Regions from separate parts of the Homo sapiens genome. Here all the other regions are linked to region 1. Evidence: fine-mapped expression QTL. A gene starts in region 1. Each other region holds a variant in brackets. All regions are shown on one strand. Distances are from middle to middle. Region 1 holds the start of TMOD3 (tropomodulin 3). Region 2 overlaps TMOD3 (tropomodulin 3). Region 3 overlaps LOC112268148 (a long non-coding RNA gene). Region 4 has its middle 11 kb from the start of LEO1.

Region 1 (2,687 bases):
ATGAGACTTGGCAAAGCTATTTTTCCAAGCCTAATATATTTTTGACGGGCCAATTAATCAATTTAATCTGCCAAAAAAATTAATCTGAAGGTTTCTCAGAAAAGGAGAGGAGACATGAGCTGCATGAAAATGTTACAAACCAAGGGAGGCTGCACATAACTAACTTAAATCTCCACAGGCTTATTTCCTGTTGAAGTATGGCCTCCTGGGGTAAGTTTTACTGCAGTGTTCATTGCCAGATGACTTTTGGTTTTAACAGAGGCCAAGGGCAAGTTGGAAATGCGATTCTTAACTAAACATTAAAAAGAAAAAAAGAAACTGTGGCTGTTTCCCATTTCTGTTTGTAATCAGAATGCAGGCTTGCGGAGGAAACACACCATCCCCCGCAAGCAAAAATATAACGACACAGTCACGTCCTCAAAACAAACTAACACACAAACTTCCCAGCCGGATCCAGCTGTGCTGCCTGGGAGCTAGGAACTTAATTCTAAGAGCAGACAGATCAAACCGGTGAATGCAAGGGCAGCCACATTTCAATCACAAAAAGGGTGTGCCCTAAGTTTTGGCTCCCCCACTCCGCCGCCCCACTTTCAACAAGCCGAAGCCTTTGAAGGAGGCTCGGTGCCATCTCGGTGTGATCGCGTCCCGGCGACGCTGGGTAGGGTGCAGGGAGCCAGCTCGGCCGCGGCTCAGCGGGAGGGGAGGGGGCCGGTCCCGAACCCGGGCGCCCGGGCCGCGGGTGATTCACTGGGAACGCCAGGTTCGCGCGCCTAGACCGGCGGGCGACGCCCAGCGCGCCCCACGTCCCCCGCCCGGGCCGTTCGCGCAGAAGCAGCCCCCGCGCACCCCTGCTCCCCGAGACGGACCCGTCGGGAAGGAGCCTGGAGTCGGGCGGCCGGCGGGCAGCAACCTCTCCCTCCTCAGCCACCATGGCCGGTGCGACTCCCTACCCGCGCCCGCAGACGGACTTCCTGGAAAGCACCGGGCTGGGCTTACCTGACTGGCGCCCGCAGGGGCCGCCGACCTCTTCACAGACCCACGGAAACTGCCGGCCGCAAGCCGAGGCTCGGTTCCCAGCACCCGCCGGTCCGCCCGCGTCGGCCTCCCAAAGAGTTGCCAGACCCACCCGCCAGCAGCTCCCTCACTCGACCGCCCTGTAGGTGCGGTGGGTTCCTCCTTCGCCTCCGACGCGCGTGCGCACTCCCGTGCCGCGGGGCATCCTGGGAGTTGTAGTTCTAGCAAGAAGGGCGAGGCTCAACGCTGACCCTGGTCTTTACAATGGGCAGAACGTAGGAAGGGGACTGCGAATACCAACCCTTATCCCAGTCTAAGATAATGTTCTCTACCCGTGGAAGTACCTACTATGGACTTCCCCGAAGCTGGAAATAGTATCTAGAGGCTCTTTGGTATAGATTTCCTTTTTACTTTGACCTTTTGTAAAGAAGCGCACATGGCAGGGCTTGCATTGTAGCCTTGGTTGTTAATGCGAGGACATGACATTGGGGCCTTTAAACTGGTCATGACAGAGTTATAGAAAAGTAAAGGAATAAAATCTAAAGCCCAAGAGAGGCATAAATCATGCGAATGTCACCTCCAGGGTGTGGTGACCTTAGTGGTTTTCTTAGGTATGCGTTTCGGGGATGATGTAGCTATTGCAGGGCAGTTTCTGCCCATCCTATCTTCCCTTTCCATCTTCAAGCTCTACACCAGGCGGTGGGGCTGGCTGCTGTAGTGGGAGAAAAAACAGAATAGGCTGCTCAAGGGGGGGATTGGGGCAGATGGGTAGTCTAGAGGGAAGAGGAAGAGTGTGGGAATCTCTCAGAGGACTGTTTGACAGTGGCCTATGTAATGGCTACCTTTTGTGCGAGGCTCTGAGGAGAGGGAACTGCGACATTTTTCCATTTATTCATTTAGTCACTTACTGGGAATTTTCCTGGCCTGCTCTTCAGGAGTAGACCATCCCCAGGAATAATGCTAAACTTTGACACACCTTTCAAAAATGCAGCCAAAGAAGTGGACTGACGTGCCTGCTTGAGGTACATTCCAGCTACACCCAGTGTGCGAGCCACTTCATGGTTTAAACCTCTCCTGGCATCTACTTCTTCCCCTCAGAGGAGGGAGGACCCTAGGTTAGATAAACATCCTGGAATTTCATGCAACTGGCACCCACTAATTTCAGCAATGGAGATCACTGATGGTTTAGGTTTTTAAGGGAAAAAAACCCTTCTTTTTTTTTTTCCAAGACAGAGTCTTGTTCTGCCGCCCAGGCTAAAGTGCAGTGGTGTGATCTCGGCTCACTGCAACCTCTGCCTCCCAGGTTTAAGTGATTCTCTTGTCTCAGCCTCCCAAGTAGCTGGGATTACAGGCACGTGCCACCACACCCAGCTAATTTTTGTAGTCCTAGTAGAGATGGGTTTTCACCATGTTGGCCATTCTGGTCTTGAACTCTTGACCTCATGATCTGCCCACCTTGGCCTCCCAAAGTGCTGGGATTACAGGCGTGAGCCACCGTGCTTGGCCAGGAAAAAACCCTTCTCAATTGCAAATACTTAGAGGACAGTCAACACTCAATCTTGTGGCCATTGCATTTTATTTTCTATACCATCTTTGGGTCAATCTCTTGGAGATAACAGCTTTCTGAGAGCAATTTCCTACAGAATTCAGGTTCATAAGAATGTTTATACTTA
Region 2 (2,687 bases), 66 kb before region 1:
TTTTAGGGTTGGAATTGGGATATTCTTGAAAGACAATAACATAAAACATCATTACATTTCAATTTTCATTATATTTAGTTTCCATTAATCAAATATATGGTTTTTTTTGCTTTAAAATGTATTCAGAAATTATACAAACACCTAAGAATTAGTCTACAAATGAATACAAATAATGCAGCTTCCTCCATAATTATCTGACTTATCTACGATGGAGCATTTGCATAAACTACTGACTCAGAGCAGAGCACATATCACCATTTCTCTAGCATTTAGGTTAAAAAAAATTCTCATTATTCTCACCTTTCATTATTCCTTTTATTTATTTATGTATTTTGAGACAGAGTTTTGCTCTTGTTGCCCAGGTTGGAGTGCAACGGCGCAATCTCAGCTCACTGCAACCTCTATCTCCCAGGTTTAAGCAACCCTCCTGCCTCAGCCTCCCAAGTAGCTGAGATTACAGGCATGCACCACCAGGTCCAGCTAATTTTGTATTTTTAGGAGAGATGGGGTTTCATCATGTTGGTCAGGCTGGTCCCGAACTCCTGACCTCAGGTGATCCACCCTCCTCGGCCTCCCAAAGTGCTGGGATTACAGGCATGAGTCACTGCACCCAGCCTTCATTATTCTTTTTATATGAAAATAAAAGTGGATTTACTTTTCTACAAGGAAAGAAATGAAGGAGTCCATCTCTGATGAGTACGATTCCTGAGGCAGACAGACTGTTCTCAGTCACTTAGTTTAAGCTACAAAGCACTAAGAGAGATTAACCCTACACTACTTGAAGGAGAGAAAATACTGAAGATGCTGGTTTCTCTCAGTAGTATCTTGAGACTTCAATTCCCCCTAGCCTGGTTATTTTCAGATGATTACTGTTTATTTAGAGAAAGGGATACACAGGGACCAAATTAAAAAAAATAAAAATAGGCCGGGCGCAGTGGCTCACACCTGTAATCCCAGCAGTTTGGGAGGCCAAGGTGGGCGAATCACTTGAGGTCAGGAGTTCAAAACCAGCCTGGCCAACATGGTGAAACCCCATCTCTACTAAAAATACAAAAATTAGCCAGGTGTGGTGGTGGATGCCTGTAATCCCAGGTATTCAGGAGGCTGAGACACAAGAATTGCTTGAACCTGGGGCAGGGCAGAGGTTGCAGTGAGCCAAGATCGCACCACTGCACTCCAGCCTGGGCAACAGAGCAAGACTCTGTCTCAAAAAAAAAAAAAAAAA[AG/G]TTAGTAATCAACTATGAATATAAGCTTTCTCTGAGGCTTTCCTTCCTCTACTCACAGGAAGGATCACTCCCTAGAGGAGCACAGAAGCTTCCTTCCCTAGGCTCAAGATTTCCAGATGCTCTCCTCCACTTGTCCTCGACTTCAAAAAAATCAAGTTTTAAAATGAGGAATTTATAATGAAGCCATTACACAATGGCTAATATCTAGATAATTTGAGTTTACTTTTTGGTAATTAATTACCCCATGTCCTCCTAATTTCTTCTTTCCTTACTCCAAGGAAGAGTTGCATTGTTTAAAACTCAAAATAAGATCCCAGAAAGCCTATTCCTAGGTGTTTACTCAAGAGAATTTAAAACATGTTCACACAAAAACCTGTGTGTGAAAAGTATATAGTGGCTGTATTAATAAACATCCCAAACTGGAAGGAACCCATATGTCTTCCAACTGATGAACAGATAAACAAACTGCAGCGTATCTGACACACTCACCATGAATCAATCTCAAATGTATTATGCTAAGAAGCCAGACCCAAAAGGCTACATACTATAGGATTCAATTTATATGACATTCTGGAGAAGGCAAAATAATAGGGAAAGAAAATAGGTCAGTGGTTGTCAGGGGCTAGAGCTGGGGGTCAGAGAATGACTACAAAGGGGTATGAGAGAACTTTTGCGGTGACAGATATATTCTATATCTTGAGTGTAATGGTGGTTGTACAAAATTGTATGCACCTGTCAAAATTCATAGAACTGGACACTAAAAGGGAGAATTTTACCATATTTAAATTTTACCTCAAAAAAACAGGTTTTATTTTATTTTTTGAGATGGGACAGTGGCAGGTCTCACTATGTTGCCCAGGCTGGTCTCAAACTTTTGGGCTCAAGCCATCCTCCAGCCTCAGTCTCCCAAGTAGCTGGGATTACAGGCATGCACCACCATACCTGGCTAAGGAACCGAATTTTAAAAAAGCAAGACCCAAGAGGCTAAATGTTCTTAGAAGTGGGCAGTATTTAGAAAACCTGAGATTTATTCTGACAGTTTGTAGGGTTTACATTTTTAGATGATAAATTCTTCAAAAAGCAAGTTAGAAAATACTATACCATAATACTTCAATATCTAAAATATGAAGAAACCTATGTTAGCATACTGGTAAGAGCAAAAACTTTACGTTAAAGTAGAAAGAATTAGACTATTTTATCAACTGCCCAGCTCTCATCCTAGGTTCAACTAACTCAAAGCAATACAAAACCACTCTGATTAGCACACTTACCTTTATATTATTCAAATTAACTTCAACAAGATGAGCATCGTTTTCTTTAGTTCTCTTCAAACTCTCTTCTACATTGGTTGGATTTGGTGGCTCATCAAATACCGGAAGAATCTTTTCACCTTTGACCACATCTGCAGTGATAAATGAAAAGAGCAGGATTTGATACCATTTTTTTTTTTTTGAGACGGAG
Region 3 (2,687 bases), 100 kb before region 1:
TTAAGATTTGACACAAATTAGGCTGGGTGTCGTGGCTCACACCTGTAATCCCAGCACTTTGGGAGGCCGAGGAAGGTGGATTACTTGAGGTCAGCAGTTCAGGACCAGCCTGGTCAACATGGTGAAACCCCGTCTCTACTAAAAACACAAAAATTAGCTGTGTGTGGTGGCAGGTGCCTGTAATCCCAGCTGCTACGGAGGCTGAGGCAGGAGAATTGCTTGAACCCAGGAGGTGGAGCTTGCAGTGAGCCAAGATCGTGCCACTGCACTCCAGCCTGGGCGACAGAGTGAGACACCGTCTCAAAAAATAAAATAAAATAAAAAATAAAAAAAGATATGACACAATTGTGGATAAATATGGACAACATAGGCTTCTATGAACATTCTTGCACAGTGCAGATACATTCAGTGTTGGGCTGGTCCTGAGCAGCACTGTTGTGAAATGCTGTTAAGCACTCTTTCTGTTTTGGTTCAGAATTTTGCTCCTTTGTTGCTACATATTTCAGCCGGGAGCCCTGGCAGGTGTTGGTTAACAGATGTCTTTGTTAGACAGCCACAATCACAATCAAAGCTACCATCAAATATACTTTGTGACAGTTTGGGGGATTCAAACAAGGGAAAAGAGTCAGCATAACTCCATTGCAAATGTCTTTTTCTTAAACTTTATAAAATTGTACAAATTATGCATCTAGCTATTCACTAACTTACTGACTTGCAATTTTTTTTTTTTTTTTTTGAGACGGAGTCTCGCTCTGCATCTCGGCTCACTGCAACCTCCACCTCCTGGGTTCAAGCAATTCTCGTGCCTCAGCCTCCTGAGTAGCTGGGATTACAGGCATGTGCCACTACGCCTGCCTAATTTTTGTAAGTTTGGTAAAGATAGGGTTTCGCCATGTTGACCAGCCTGGTCTCAACTCCTGACCTCAGGTGATCCACCCACCTCAGCCTCCCAGAGTGCTGGGATTACAGGCATGAGCCACCACATCTGGCCATGACTCAGACATTGTAACTAGGAAGATAGCCCTAAGCAATGGTGCTTTTCATGTTCTAGTAATGCACACATTTTGGCCCTGGCTCCTGATGCCACAAGTTTGTGTACTTAGGCTCACTTATGGATGCATCACTTTTAAAAGCCAGGAATTTAGGAAAGGTTCGTAACATTTTTATAGAACCTTAAGCTTTTTAAAGGGTAAACACTAGTAAAACTTCTCTAAAGAACTGGTCGGGCACAGTGGCTCAAACCTGTAATCCCAGCACTTTGGGAGGCCATGGCGGGTGGATCACTTGAAGACAGTAGTTTCAGATCAGCCTGACCAACATGGTGAAACCCTGTTTCTACTAAAAATTCAAAAATTAGCCGGGCATGGTGGTGTGTGTCTACAGTCCCAGCTACTTGGGAGGCTGAGGCAGAAGAATTGCTTGAACCTGGGAGGCAGAGGTTGCAGTGAGC[C/T]GAGATCGCACCATTGTACTCTAGCCTGGTTGACGAAGTGAGACCCTGTCTCAAAAAAAAAAAAAAAAAAAAAAGAAAAAAAAAAACATAAAAACAAATCACTCTCAAACTCAGCACTTACAATAAGCATTTACTATTATCATGCTGATTCTGAGGATTAGGAATTCAGGAATGGCTTCGCTGGTTGTTTCTAACTCAGAGTCTCTTGCAGGCTGCTGTCAAGATGTTGGCTGGCACTACATTATCTAAGGGCTTGCCTAGGGCTGAAGGATCTGTTTCCAAGATGGCTCACATGGGTTTTGGCAGGGGCCTTAGTTTTTCACTATGTGGACCTCTCCATAGGCAGTTTGAATGTCCTCACGGCATGGCAGGTGGCTTTCCCCAGAGCAAGTGACCTAAGACAGAAAGAGCAAGACAGAAAAGCCAGTGTCTTTCATAGCCTCATCTCGAATACAGGTTGTATTCTGCTGATCACATAGATCAATCATGACACAGTGTTGGAGGAGACCACACAAGGGCATGGAAACCAGAGGCAGGAATCACTAGGATGGGCAGGAACCTTGAAAGCTGGCTGCCACAGTGATTACCTTTCACCCACCAACTCTGCCTCCTCCTTTCTCCAAAGACACGCTAGTTAGTTAAGCTTCTGAGAACCTGGCTTAGGGAGCCAGTTTGAGGTTGGTTTAGTGGAGATTTGGCTTATGAATCTTTGGACTATGTTGAAGTGGTGGACCAAGAACTAACTGTGTAAAGAACTTTAGTTGGAAAAATTAATACTGTGCATTTCCCCCCAACACCGAAGATCCTAGTGGGACCATGGATCTGTTTGGAGATATAGACGACGTTTCTTCTGAGAGTGATGAGGGCAATCAACCACCTATTCCAGGACAGCTGATTGTAAGTACGATCACCAATATCAACCAATCCCATTATTCAAAGCTAAAAAAGAAAGCTTCAGAGGCTGATGAATCTGTCTTTCTCATGTTGAGAGAGGACGTGGATAGCTGAACATCTGATGAATAGGTGACTTTCTTAGCTATATTGGGAATTTCTGGATATAAGAAGGCACAGAAGGAACTACCCAGAATAAGGGTGATGCCAAACTTTAGGGGCTAGACTAATATAAAATAATATAAAAATATAATTAATATGTAATATAAAAACCTTTGATTTAAAGTTTTTTCTTATTCAAGCCTATGACAAGAAGCATGAGCTATGCTGATATTCTGATTTTAAT
Region 4 (2,687 bases), 150 kb before region 1:
GGATTTTTTTTTTTTAATGAGACAGTATCTTGCTCTTTCACCCAGACTAGAGTGAAGTGGCATAATCATAGTTCACTGCAGCCTTGAACTTAGACATGGAAATATTTAATCAAAGAGTATAGCCATTTACAGTTTAGATAGATAATACCAAATTGCCCTTTCAAAAGGCTGTCTTATTATTATTTTAGTAATAATTATTATTAAAATCTTGCTCTGTCACCTAGGCTGGAGTGCAGTGGCATGATCATGGCTCACTGCATCCTCAACCTCCCAGGCTCAAGTGATCCTCCCACCTCAACCTCCAAAGTAGCTGGGACTACAGGCATGTGCCATGCCAGCTAATTTTTAAATTTTTTTATAGAGACAGTGTCTTGGTATGTTGCCCAGGCTGGTCTCCAACTGCTGGGCTCAAGCAATCCACCCACCTAGGCCTCCCAAAGTGCTGGGATTCCAAGCAAGAGCCACCACATCAGCCCTGTTGTCCTGTTTTTTTTTGTTGTTGTCGTTTTTTGTTTGCTTGTTTTGAGACGGAGTTTCGCTGTTGTTGCCCAGGCTGGAGTGCAATGGCGTGATCTCTGCTCACTGCATCCTCCGCCTCCTGGGTCCAAGTGATTCTCCTGCCTCAGCCTCTGAGTAGCTGGGATTACAGGCCACCACTTCCAGCTAATTTTGTATTTTTAGTACATACGGGGTTTCTCCATGTTGGTCAGGCTGGTCTCGAACTCCCGACCTCAGGTGATCTGCCCACCTTGGCCTCCCAAAGTGCTGGGATTACAGGCATGAGGCACCACGCCCAACCTAAAAAAAAATTCTAAAGGTTAATATTGTTTTTGCAAATAGAAATTTATGACCCTGGGATATTTTTTGGCTGTTTTCCTATTAGTTACTTCTTTCTGACATTTTAGGCCCAGGATTCTAACCCATTTTCCTACCCAAATTTTGATTTTGTGTTAAGTAGCAGATAAAAAGTGTGTACATGTGTGTTTGCACATCTGAAAGTTAAACTTATCCATACATCACTATGAATCATGATTAACCTAAAATGTCACACCCATTTAAAGAAAGGAATTAATCCTGCCTGTCATTTCCTCATTGAGTAAGGAAATAAACTGCAGTCAAGGAAGTAAAATCTTCACTGGATTCTTTAGGGAAATTTCATCTTATGGAGCCCAAGAAAAAATTTAAAAATTTCCTTAAAAGGTAACAGTTACTTTATATAAATGATTACTTTATCAGCAGATGCATACAAATCAGAGTGCCTATAGTTGAAAAATATTTTCTTAGTGTTTTCTAGTCTGAAAAATAC[C/T]TTTTTTATTTTTTTTTACTTGGGAAAAACACGAAAAAACACTGCCTCATTTTATCATAAGAAGTGTTTTGATTGCTATCTAAAGGCAGTATTCTTCAAGTCTCCTCTTATCTAAGACCTCCTTCACCACCACCAACACAGGACATTTTCTTTCTAAAGAAAAATTAGTAAGTGTATAGTGTATGTGTGAGTGTGTATGTGTGTGTACCTCATTTTACATATGATTGAGATCTCTTTAGGGTATACCATCACCATCTTGTGGCCTTTTGCCATATTACTGTTAAGGATGTTAATACTGCAATGCTTTTTTGCCATTGCAAGCATGAAATTCAGCATTATCTCCTCTTGGTAGTCCTCTGTGGGTGAGATGAAATATACTGAGGGCCAGATGCAGCCTGCGTGCCAGCAGTCCCCACCCGCCGACGAGATAGTATCTCTGCAGTTATGCTGTGTTCTCACACGATTCTAAATCAGCCAGTTGGATAAGGAAATCCAGTGAAAGATCTAATCAGAGCAGTTTTGCTGTAAAGTGAAATTTTCAGTTTTGCTTTGTGTTTGAGCCGGATCTGTTTTAGTGGTTCCTTTCTATTTGTAAAATTTTGGTTGGCAGGGAAGTCTACATTTCCTGATGTTTCTCTCTGTCTCTGTGTTTGTGCTGTTGGGATGTTTTCACATTTTTGTTTCAATATTTCCCCACCTCAGTACTATTTTATTATGTGCCTTAAAAAATTATTTTTCCATCCCCTTCTGTCACTCCTTTCCCTTTGTATTCTTAATCTATTTTTTTCCGTCCTTTCTTTCCTTCCTTATACTTCTCATTTTCAGTTTCTTTGATATCTTTTCTGCATATCGTTTTTCTTATTCAGCTTCCTCCACTAACACCCACAGCACCCTCCGTACCCCATCCTCCTTTCTTTGTTCCTTCTGATTCTTTCCTCCAGTAGTTGTTCCTGCTCTGGTGTTGAGTACGCTGACCTCATCCTGCCTGCTGCAAAGGTCTTTTTAGGACATAGCTCTCTGGTAACCCTCAAGCTTCAGGAAGGAGTCTAAAGTCTATCTATTCCAGGAAGCGGGTTCCTAAACCCAACCCTATATTTAAAAGGTTCCAAAAGGACAAACTTTGCTTCTGTCCTAAGAAATAATTTCTGACTCATTACCTTTATTCTGTTCTTTTTTTCTTCACATAAGTCTGAATTTTCTTTTTTTTCTTTTTCTTTTTTTTTTTTGAGACGGAGTCTCGCTCTGTCACCCAGGCTGGACTGCAGTGGCACGATCTCGGCTCACTGCAAGCTTCGGCCTCCCATTCATGCCATTCTCCTGCCTCAGCCTCCGGAGTAGCTGGGACTACAGGCGCCCGCCACCACACGCGGCTAATTTTTTG

The links. PIP is the estimated chance that this variant, and not a neighbour inherited with it, causes the effect. A credible set is the group of variants that fine-mapping cannot tell apart.
Region 2: its variant is the best candidate, but not a certain one, in a credible set for the expression of TMOD3 in monocytes after Pam3CSK4 (Quach 2016, PIP 0.63).
Region 3: its variant is the best candidate, but not a certain one, in a credible set for the expression of TMOD3 in blood mononuclear cells (TOPMed, PIP 0.86).
Region 4: its variant is the best candidate, but not a certain one, in a credible set for the expression of TMOD3 in whole blood (TOPMed, PIP 0.72).

Annotation. Positions count from the first base shown.
Region 1 is chr15:51,828,146-51,830,832 of GRCh38, reverse strand. TMOD3 (tropomodulin 3) reads right to left here and starts at 1,180. Exons shown (of 10, transcript NM_014547.5): 1 at 997-1,180. RefSeq lists silencers at 621-900, 1,121-1,275.
Region 2 is chr15:51,893,756-51,896,442 of GRCh38, reverse strand. It overlaps TMOD3 (tropomodulin 3), which reads right to left. Exons shown (of 10, transcript NM_014547.5): 6 at 2,498-2,628; 7 at 1-24. Among named protein-coding and RNA genes, the nearest start is that of TMOD3, 65 kb to the right of the region's middle. The variant AG/G (reference allele first, on the strand shown) is at 1,226.
Region 3 is chr15:51,930,189-51,932,875 of GRCh38, reverse strand. The region is part of intron 1 of LOC112268148 (a long non-coding RNA gene); the gene reads right to left. Among named protein-coding and RNA genes, the nearest start is that of LEO1, 40 kb to the left of the region's middle. The variant C/T (reference allele first, on the strand shown) is at 1,451.
Region 4 is chr15:51,981,317-51,984,003 of GRCh38, reverse strand. It overlaps a transcript of MAPK6 not described here. Among named protein-coding and RNA genes, the nearest start is that of LEO1, 11 kb to the right of the region's middle. The variant C/T (reference allele first, on the strand shown) is at 1,307.